Linked DNA regions of Homo sapiens. The protein of the gene in region 1 purifies or fractionates together with the protein of each later gene. This does not show direct contact. Each region holds a gene or a part of one and is shown on either strand. Other genes may lie near its edges.

Region 1 (3,500 bases):
GAACCGCCGAGAGGTGGGCCTGGAGGGGTGCGCGGGTGGAGGCCGCTGAAAGCCGCCCCATCCGCGTGTCCGGACGTCGAAGGAAGCTCTCCCGCCCAGGGGAAGGCAATTATTCTAACCTTTTTCTTCCGCTGGCCAGGGCTGGCCCTACAGGGGGCAATCCGCGCAGAGGAGGTCAGTGACACCCTGCTCCCAGCCCTCGGGTAGCGACTCCCCCTCCCCACCCCTCCCAGGCTGGGCGTTCTGGGGGAGATTAGCAACAATGTAGAGCCCGCACCTTCCGGAAGGTCGGTATAGGAGGACTTAGAGAACCCATCCGGCTTTGGGAGTTGGACCCGCCTGGGGGGGAAATCTGCTACAGGGTAACTCTGGGCCGGGAAAAATCTGCTACAGAGTTAACTCTGGGCCTGGGGAAGTTGTTCAAGCTGCTCAGCCTCAGTTTCCTCCCCTAACCACAGGGTTGGGACGGTACAGACAGTGAACTTCACAGGGGCTCAACAAACGCCAATGCCTTGCCCTTCTAGAGGCACTACTGCAGGCTGCCTCCCTGTTCAGTAAGGCGCTGCTCCTGCAAGTTCACATCTACACTGACCATGCTCAGGAGTCTCTTGGAAAAAATGGGACCTACGTGTCTCAGTAGTAATGAGGGCCCATCCACAGGCTGGCCTTGGCTCCGAGGAGCAGCCTCTGGCATCCAGACCGGCCCCATGCCCTTTTCAAGGGAAAAAAAATAAAAATAAAAACACAGGCTCCCAACCTGGGTGAGGAACAGAAGGGTGGGCAAGACCCCTCTGGGAGGCCTGTTCAGGAGGCTGCACTTTCTGGGCCTCCCACGCAGGACAGACAATGCATTCCTGCCAGACGGGGCTGCCTTCGGCTCATTTCCCAGCAGGAAGGAAGAAAACATACATTGACTGCATGCCCAACACTGGCTGGCATCTGGGTTTGTTCCACTTTATTCTCAGAGCAACCCTGTAAGATTGGAATTACTACCCCCTTTTCACAGAGAAGGGAACTGAGGCTCAGGAAGAGCTGTCAGTCCTTCCCTAAAGGCCCTTGGCCTTTGTCACTGGGAGATGGAGACATTCTGGATCCCCATTCTGTAACTGCCAACAAGCTTGCTCTTCCTTTGAGAAAATGTGCCCCACCCAGGACCCCTCCATTTGGAGGAGGTCACCCCAGAGCACCTTGATCCTCTGGAACCCCAAAGGCCTGGGCAGCTCAGTCCTGGTCTGGCGCCCACACCCAACAGCCCAGTAACTATAGCAATCCAGGAATCACACGACAAGAGTCACAGAGTCCCCTTGGAAGGCAGGAGGCGGGAGAAGGGGGAACAGCAGTCACACCCAACTTGTCCCATCCCAACCCAGTGCTGCTCCTCCCCTCCCGTCACCGCTGCTGAAGTTCCTGGGGAGGCGCTTGGGGGAGGGACCCCTGGCGGCCCTGTGTCTCAGCATGCTCAGCTCATCTTCAGCTACCCAGCAGCTCGGTGGCCTCCTCATTCCTGCCAGCCCCAGTGGGCATCGCTGTTGCTCTGGGTGGCCGTCACAACCTTCCCCAGCTAGCCACCTCCCCACAGTTCCCGGGGAAGCCTCTCTCACAGCACTGGCCCGGCCAGGAAGCAAACATCTTTGTTTCTTCTGGAACCAGGCTCCAGGAACCGGGTTTTTCCTTCAGCAACACTTCCCCCCAGTTCACCAAGTGCCAAGGCCAGCCAGGTGCTCTGCCATCAGCCAGGACATTCGTCCAGGGCTGGTCCGAGCCAAGCTCCCAATTGAGACAAAGCCTCCCCACAAATGTACCCACACATCCCCAGATCCCCAGCCCCTCATCCTCCCTTTGGGGCCCCAAGGTCAGCAGGGCAGGTCCAGCGGCTGCCAGTCAAAATGCTGAGCAGAAATGGATACAATATTATCCAGGGAATAACAAAGGAAGGGCCCACGCAGAAATTTATTTGTACTGATCAGGCAAAGCAAAGGTAAAGGGCAGAGAGGAAGTGCTGTCAGCCGGCCTGAAACCCAAGAAAGTTGCCATTCCGAGCACAGTGGCCCCTTATGCCCCACCACTCCTCACCGCAGCAGTAGTTAAAGCAAACACAAGCCCTTCACTGCCCCGTCAGTTACACCTTCCCCCCAAAATTACACAAACTTTGAAACATTTTTCTGAGAGAAGATGGATGCTTCAGGAGACTTGAGGTCAAGGCTAGGCTGTTTAAAGTCTATTATCAACAAATAAACATTTACTGCAAAAAAAAAAAAAAAAAAAAAAAAAAGAAGAGAGAGAGAGAGAAAAACCCTATAGGCCACCGGGGAACCAAATCATGTTGCTTTTGGCATCAAATGACAGGAGACATTTATGACATGAATGGAGAACACCAGCCGGTCGATGAAATGGCAAACGTCTGCCACTTTGCTTCCTCTACCTTCGTGAATCAACTTTTTCAAATATGGTTTTCAGCCTTAGCCCTCTCTCACTACCACCGTCTCTCCACTTCTGACTGCAGTGGTAATAAATATATATAATTTTGGTTTTGCTCTTTGCTGCCATCAGCACAGAATCTGGTTGGAGAGGGCCAGAGGAACTTCCGGCTGGGTCAGCCAGACAGCCAAGGGCCCTGGGTCCTCGGGCACCCCCAACTGACTGACAGCTCACACGCGGCTCCTTGGATGAGTAGACTATCCCTCCCTTCCTCCCTCCCCTGGCTGAGGCTTGACTGTGGTGTCCAACAAATTGGAAGTTATAACTCATGTCGGTGAGAGTATCCTCCATCCTTCAGCCTAACTGATGCCAAAGTAGGACTGGTTTTTTTCCTCTTCCTTTTCTTTATTTTTTAGAAACTCCAGAGCCTCAGGACAAAGGCGGCTCCTTGGAGAAGCATCGCCAGCCACCCATGGGTGGAAACCTCACAAGGCCACAGAGCCCGAGCTGGAGGGGCCTTCTGAGTTCCTGGAATGGTGTTTCTCCACCTTTTAAACCTCATCTTCCTTCTGAGAAATAGACAAATCCCCCAGACCTCTCCTCCACCTACCCCCTTCTCCATTGGCTGAGCTTTATTTTCTGTGGCTTCAATCACAAAACAGTAAGTACAAACAGTTCTTCAAATATGAATTATTAAGCTTTTCCAAGCTATATGGAGGCCCTGGAGATGCCAATTGTTTCCCGGTGGAAATACTGTTGCTCTGGACCACCCTCTGTTTGCCACCAAAGGAAAAAGAGCCAGCACACCCGGCCACCCTCCGTCTGCCCCCAAGGAGAAAGAGCACAGGACACCCGGCCACCCTCCGTCTGCCCCCAGGGAGAAAGAGCACAGCACACCCGTCTGCCCCCAAAGGAGAAAGAGCCCAGCACAGCTGGCCACCCTGTTGTGGCCCTTTCTGATAATGCAGTTGGCACCTGTGCGCACCCACACAATCAGGTTTTCCACCTCTCTTGAGGTGCAGGAGAGGATAATGGATCCCCCGGAGAATGGAATATTTATTAAAGTTCCACCAGGTGCCTGT
Region 2 (3,725 bases), on another chromosome or scaffold:
AGAATTCTGCACAAAGCCTTGCATACATTCAACTAGATGAAAGCATTCTTGAGGTGACTACAAGCTCTTACTGTTAGTTCGTAGCACAGCAGAGGTACAACAAGTGCCCAGAAATCACCAGCCACCCACAACTCTAATCGGTGGCCATGGTGCATGCTGGGTGCCGCCCTGGGCAGGGAGGTGGGAGATAAGGTATTAAGGGCTCCTGACACTCCCATGTGAGATTCAACTCACAAAATACAGGTGGTAAGGCTTTCTATATTGGGTAACACGGAGCTTTCAAAACAAGAAAAGAAAACAGCACTTGGCTTCTCCGTATTTCTCCCTTGTGACTCTGAGCGTATTGATGGTGGAGACTGTGAGATTTCTATGCAACTGTTAAAGGTGATCGTCATTTTGGCAAAGTCATTGTAATGTGGAAAAATCACAGAGTTGGGGACTTGGAAGTCTCGGGCCCTTGTCTCAGCTTGACCTTCAGCTAGTAACTTCCCTTTTTGGGTCTCTGTTTCCTCATCTATAAACAGAGCAGCTGCATTCTCTAAGGTTCTACTGTTCTCTGACATTGGTTTTGATGACAGAGAGGTTGAAAACACACGTAGCTGTTTGCTTGGAAAGCAGCTGTTGAAGTGTTTATTTTCGACCAAGAAAGACCAAGCATGGAGGAGGACAGAGGGAGGGAACCAAACAGGTGAGCTGGTCAGGAGAAGGCAGCTGGCCTGTCATCCGCAGCTACACTGCCGTTCTTAGTTGCTACTCTAACCAAACAAACCTTCATTTAAAAATGAGAAACCCCTCCCCTCACAGTCACTCGACTTCCAAATTAAAAACATTTTACAGGTTAGTAAATCTCCAGCTGAGGTGATGTAGCAAAGAACAGCTGTGAAGTAATTTTGATAATGATGAGAATAATAACCACATGGCAAGGTTCAGGGCTTTGCTGTTGCAGCTTCAGTGCTCCTGAATAGATAAAAGTGATTAAATACTCCTGATTATCCCTGACCAATATGTAATGGATTTACAGCCCTTTCAATTAGTCAGTATTTGCTTAGGACTCATTATTTTGTCTTTGGTTAAGTAATCAGTCCAGAGACCGCATGTTCTGTCTAATTCCTCTGAGCCGAGTCAGTGCAGGGCCCTGACCTTTGAAATGGCCATAGCTGCAAGGCAAGAATAACCACTACCACAGCTGCCTCATTGGTTCTCCCAGCTAATCCTGACACCACAGGCCAGATCGATACACCTTAGTTTGCTACTAATGTCCTTACATCAAAATGGCCGATTTAGGAATGTGAATCTATCACTTTTCCCTCCCCACCACTGCTCCACCCCTTGCCCTTTGTAGCTCTGCAAGAAGAGCCCATCAGCAGCCACCACCATAAATAAAAGTGGAACCTTGTCCTGGACCCATGACACTGTAACTAATGTCATTCAGCATGGCAACACACAAGTTGGATAATCAAAGAAGACCTTCAGCTTTCAATGTGCTACTCTATTTTTAAGTATTAGCCTAAATAGAATGGCCTGAAAACAATATTATAGCAAGAAGCAACCTCTGAAATTTTTACTGGTTTCCCAGAATTTCCAAATGAACAGTAAAATATAAGCATGCCTAGTTTATCTGTAAAAATATATTGTAATTTTTTTGTCATAAGAGTCTTAGAGTCAACAGTATGTATCCACACATACAAGGATTGCAAACAGGAAGATAAAGATAAATTGTTACTTTTAAAATGTCTCACATAGTAAAACCGTTTCCAGAAGTGAACATGGTTAGCTTTTAAGATAATGGACTTGAGCAGCTAAAAAAAGAATCTTTAATGTCCACCTTGCAAACAAAGGCATTACAGCACCTATAACCCTTCTGAATTTGTCATATAAATACATGACATATTTGTAAACTGCTTCAGCAATTAAAGCTGCACCTGATATTGTGAGCTTGGACATGCATGTGGCAAGGTGCTTTTTTTTTTTTTTTTTTGGCCTCCTAGAGGAGACAGCTTTCGTTAACAGTGTAATCAGCAACGTTTATGGATTTGTGAGCTCCTTACAGCCATTTCCCTTGGTTGCTGTTGCAGTATCCGAAGTTGCTCTCATACTTTTAGCATAAATAACAAATTTACTTATATATGCTGTTTAGGGTCTTAGATCATTTTAAATAAAGTCCATTCCCAGCTTCTTAAAACAAAAACCTGCTACTTTCTAGAGGGTGCTCTTTGGATGGTAATAGTTGATGAAAAAAAAAACTTTAACTAGTCTGTTAGTCATCAGATTTCAAGAATAAGAAAATAGGCACCTTAGTTTAAAAAAAAATCAGTATGAGACCGTATAACTTGCTAGCAAAACAACAAAAACTATTTTTTTTTTCTCTTTCATCTTGACTTACTGTGAGATGCTGGAAGAGCCATGCTCTCATGATATTTGTTGCTACTTTGGGGAAAATGCCTCTTTTCTTCTGGCGTTTTTTGTCCTTATCCGGATCATCATCGTCACCTGTACCAGGTGAAGCTACACTGTTGTCTAAACCATCCCCTAGTAGAAAGAAATAAAAATACATTAGAGAAAACATCGCAAGGTGCCAACAACAAGTGCAGCTAATGATGAGCTCAGCTAAGCTTGTTGAAAGAAATCCATTAAGCGAGTATATTCTCTTTCATTAAAGTATAATTGGAGACACAAATATGTAAAAGACAAAATTAAACCAGGCCTCTTCAAATGTTAATTTTGTGTGTCTCACACTTGCCCATATCATTAATTCAATTATAACTGTGCACTTGACACAGTGCAGTAGCTCTTTGTCAATTATGGAATCCAATGTGGGAAAACCGCCATCAGAAAACCTATTCAGTGGAAACGCATCCCCATGCCCAGAGTGAACACATACTGTAGGGTAATCAAGTTAAATGTTCTGTAGTCTATATATTCTAGGCTGCCTGCATAGGTGACAGTAACTGTGTCACTGTTCGTTGCACATAACGCACTGCCTGCTCAGCCCCTCCTAGAGCTGTCACCTCCTAAGCACGCACATTCGCACACTTCTCATATGACCCTGCACTCGGCATTTGCATGACATGAAAACTTTTAGCTCTCTGCACCACTGATCATTATCATGAAAAAAAAAAAGATACACATCAAGGTAGGGTGCTCACTTAATCAGAAGTTTCTATCAACATCTTTCTCTTCTGTGCTTTTCTCTGGCATTAATTGTGCATTAGCAAAAATCATTTACTTTTAACAGTCATAGTTATTTTTTCTTGCCCTCTGGCAAAAATGCCTTGAAAGCCTGCCTGGAGGGCATCTAAATTATGTATCTGAAAAACTCTTCTGGCAAGGCATTGCAGGACCCCTACTTTCTTAAAATTCATACGAGCACGTCTTCCTGTTTTTGGGAAGGCATCAATCAAGAGCAGCAATATATGCCATATCCCTACATTAATATTTGAACTAATAACTTTAAAAAAAGGAAAGAAACAAGATCCGACTTGTGGCATAATCAAATGCAAAATAAATGAAGAATACGGGGACAGCACTGGGGCTTTATAGATGGCTGTGTTTTCCTTGCACATCATTAGCCTGGAGCCACACGAAAGAGGAAAACAGAGAAGTGGAGAGTTTATGCTCCCTGCTGGTGTTTAAGAAGCCAGGGTCCTGGAAGGACATCTGGGAATTGCACTGAGATGGGGGTTTTTGTAATTTAAGAATAGACATTCATTAGCAGTAAATGCCAT
Region 3 (3,725 bases), on another chromosome or scaffold:
GCAAGCTCCTTGAGGACAGGCTTCATGGCAATGTCTTGGCTTTGTTTTTGCTGCTGTCTCCTCAATGCCTAGGACTGTGCCGGGGACACAGAAGATGCTCTATAAATATTTGCTGAATGGAAGAACAAAGGGAATGGGTGAATGCCATGCTGCCCCTCCCCAGCAAGGCAGGACACCTGCCCATGATGCCCGATTACTGGGTTCTATTTCCAAGAATCCTCAACAACTATTTGTTCCCTCTCTACTAGATTTGGGATGGCGATGTGAGTAGAGATGTAAATTGAACACAAAAGACTACGTCCTAATGAGGTGGAGGATTTACAAGCCTCAGTGCCCTGTGACCTGCTGCTTCTGTGGCCGCTTTCTGGCCCATCTGGATCTGGCTCCTCCTCCACCCCAGCCTCCCCCCTCCCCCACTGGGCACCCCCACTGCCTTGACTGAGCCGTACTCAAATTGGCCACGTTCCTACTAAGCAGAAAACTAACAGTTACCCCACCCACCCCGGCCCTATCCGAACTCTCCAGAGTCTGCTCTGGGCCCCAGGGCCAGCTGCTTTTCTCCACATTCCAGCCAAAAATAATACAAGAACGAAGCTGTTTGGTGGAGACTTAATCTAATCTTCATTGCTTCAGTTTTAAAATATCCTGCCTGGTTTAGGGTTTCTTATTACACACAGGGATGTGTTTTTAGTGAGATAGGTCTTAGCAGAAACGTCCTTCTTGTAATTAGAAACCCAGGCAGGCCGGGCCTGCAGTGAGGCATCCAAGCCAAACAGCAGATCCCCTTGAAGACAACGCATTTGCAGCAAGCTCTTCTCAAGCTCTGCTTGACCGCGTGAGATGAACTGAGCTGTCCCGGGCTTGCTTCTCCCTCTCTCCTGGGGGTTCTGGACGGGAGGAAAACCTGGAGTTCAGGTAGAAAGACTGTGCCCTCCAACTGTTGCTCTCTCAACCCCCAGCCCTGTCTCCCACCCCCAATCAAAATGGAGACTAAGATGTTGCCTGTGATTGGCTGAGAAGGAAATGAGGAGGAAAAATTACCCCAAGGAATCCCCAAAGACTAGGGAGTATTAAAGACAAGCATTCCACCAGAGCCGCGTCTCCAGGATCAGAGCTAGCTTTTACAAATCAGACACCGGAACAGAAGGAGTCTACGAGCGCACACACAGTTTTGTGTAAGTGCCGGGTGTAACTTCTTGGGCTTTCTGGCCCAGAATCTGCTTTGATCTGCCAGCAGAGACTGCTAAGAGAGGTTCAGGCCGTGGCTAGCTGCAGACCAGCACCCAACCCCCTCAGCCGACCAGATGTCACACACACACCAGTCAGGGCTCAGGCCTTGCCTTCCCAGTGGAATAAAGAGAAGGGGCTGCATTTCTGATAAGTCAGATTCTGCATTCGTCTGATACAGGACAGCTATTCCAGGTAACACCATTTGGAAGAAGCGGGCTGGATCCCCCAACTCAGCCAAAATTGCCCCTCTTGGTAAAGTGTAGATGGTTTTTGGAGTCACAGCAGGCCTTTCAAATTCTAGGATGTAATGCAAGGCAGGAATTCAGCCCCTTTACTATAGCCTAAGAACTCCTGAGAGTTGTGGGGAAGGCCCTGGAGCCAGGCGAGGAAAGAAAACACACCGAAGAATGTGACTTTGCTGCTGAGAAGCCTCTATCTCCCATTTTTTTTACTCAGAGCGCAGCCTGTGCTTGATCCAAGCCCATCATCTCACCCTAGTGAGAACTGTGTGTGATACATTCCACTTTACAGATGAAGAAACCAAGGCCCAGAAGCTAGATGACCCACTGGAGTCATGCAGCCCTGGCAATAACAGAGTCAAAAGAGACCAGGCCACTAAATTTCAGCCTAAACACTAGCTCAGCATGCTGACCTGCCAACCTTGATTATCTGCCCACCACTTCCCTCCCTCCTTCCTCCCTTTCCCACCAGGTATTAGATTTAATTAAATTAGCAGATCCCCATCGCAACAATCCTGGCCATGCTGCCTGGATAGAACCCAGCCCGTGGAGCTCCTCCCTCTAAATTCTGCTTCTCAGTATAATTCAGTCTTCAATAAGTCACGGATCTCACGTGAAGTGTTTTATACAAAGCATGGTGTGTTGGCTAGACTCAGGCTAACGGTGGTTCATGATGATTTCATTTTCCATTAGAACTTCCTCAGTTTTTCCTCTGCAGCATCGTTTTCACCCTCTCCATGCTCGGATCTGCGTTTTGTTTGATCCAGACACTTGGCTTCACATGCCGTCACCTCCAGCAATTGCATCACACGTTTATATATATCTTACAGCATCGCAGTCCTTGTGCCACACAGCGTAGGAAAAAGGAAAACTCATAACAGCCTTTCTCACCCTCCTCGAACTAATTTAGAAAATGTGCTCCAGATTAAATAAATCGGGAACAAAAGCCTGAGATTAGAGATAGAATTTCAGAAAGTAGGGAGGGGGAAGCTAAATAAATAGCAAGGAAATCTTGCAACATGTTGGAAGCCTATAAATTTTATTGGTTGTTTCTTTAATAAAAACAAATTCAATTGCTAACAACGCAGTATTATTAAGCCTCTAACATTTAAACATCTAATTTTCCCCTGCTCTGCTGCTGTTTACGTTGCACGTTGGATTCACGGAAGGTAAAGAAGTCAGGTCAATTGGTTTGGTTTGATTCCTAAACCAAGCTAATAGAGACCCCTTTAAAATCCAGCCGTTTTGCTTTCTAGGCATGCCTTGGTCTCTAATGAGTTACAGCCCAGGTTGAAGATGGACATGGCAGAAAGAAATTTAACACACACTCTGGTGCACCCATAAACTTCAAGGCCAAGGGAGAGGAGGTATGTTTCCAGTTAAGCTAGAACTCCATGAATTCAGGATTCTCCACTCACAAGACAGTAATTCTACTTATTTCATCACTAACTTACTTCAAATGTGTTTATACAATTTATTGCTACTGAACTTCCAGGCAACTGGTGTAGAGTTAATGAAACCCAGCTTGGAGAAGCTTTGAGCTTTGAACAACTAACCACAGTTTAAATGGTTATGACATGCGGTCAAAGCCACAGCCTGAGCCCACTGCAGTTTCTGTGTTAGGACCTAGTCAAAAACCTTGTCATCTCACCTTTTGTGCCAAACAGATTGAAAAAGCAAAAAGCACTGAAAAACAGCCTGCCTTGTTCCTTCTCAAGGTTCCCAGGCATTTAAACACATTTATCTTACTAAACGCGAGGCAAAGCCCCTCCCCCAGTCCCAAGTAAATATTTTAGTTGCAGTTTGAATTGGCAGCTGGGCTGAAATCCTGAAATCCAGTTTGGGTTTAACTGAACAGGGGTCAGGCCTACCTAAAGCAATGCTGGGAGAGGCTGCTGGGGAGGCACCAAGCAACATTTAAAGGCAGACTCAGTGAAAGCCCAAAGGCAACACGAGAATGAACAGATGAAACCGGACTGGAAAAGAAGCAAACTCGTCTTTCAGAATCACTTGGACATTAACTTTTATTAATTCTCATTGTCACATGGCACCCTCCCCCAAGCTCTGCCATGTGGGATCCAGCAAGCTCCCTCTTTTTAAACAGGCCCATTTTGGAAGAGTAAAGGGGAGGTACTGGATTTGCCACTGCCACACAATAAAAGCCCCTTTTGAAAGCAGCACTTTCATTAACTTAAAGCAATCTATAGACTTAAAAGCAGAGAGCAGTAAACTCCCAGAGAGGATCATAAAACAGCC

What was found.
Region 2: the proteins of LMX1B (region 1) and MEIS2 purify together in Homo sapiens (affinity purification with mass spectrometry; 3 studies listed by BioGRID and IntAct, with this or other methods). This does not show direct contact.
Region 3: the proteins of LMX1B (region 1) and PKNOX2 purify together in Homo sapiens (affinity purification with mass spectrometry; 3 studies listed by BioGRID and IntAct, with this or other methods). This does not show direct contact.

The regions. Positions count from the first base shown.
Region 1 is NC_000009.12:126,620,428-126,623,927, reverse strand, and holds part of LMX1B (LIM homeobox transcription factor 1-beta), read right to left. Parts: intron 1-3,500. UniProt on the Homo sapiens protein: Transcription factor involved in the regulation of podocyte-expressed genes. Essential for the specification of dorsal limb fate at both the zeugopodal and autopodal levels.
Region 2 is NC_000015.10:37,034,431-37,038,155, forward strand, and holds part of MEIS2 (homeobox protein Meis2), read right to left. Parts: intron 2,530-3,725; coding exon 2,384-2,529; intron 1-2,383. UniProt on the Homo sapiens protein: Involved in transcriptional regulation. Binds to HOX or PBX proteins to form dimers, or to a DNA-bound dimer of PBX and HOX proteins and thought to have a role in stabilization of the homeoprotein-DNA complex.
Region 3 is NC_000011.10:125,167,653-125,171,377, reverse strand, and holds part of PKNOX2 (homeobox protein PKNOX2), read right to left. Parts: intron 1-3,725.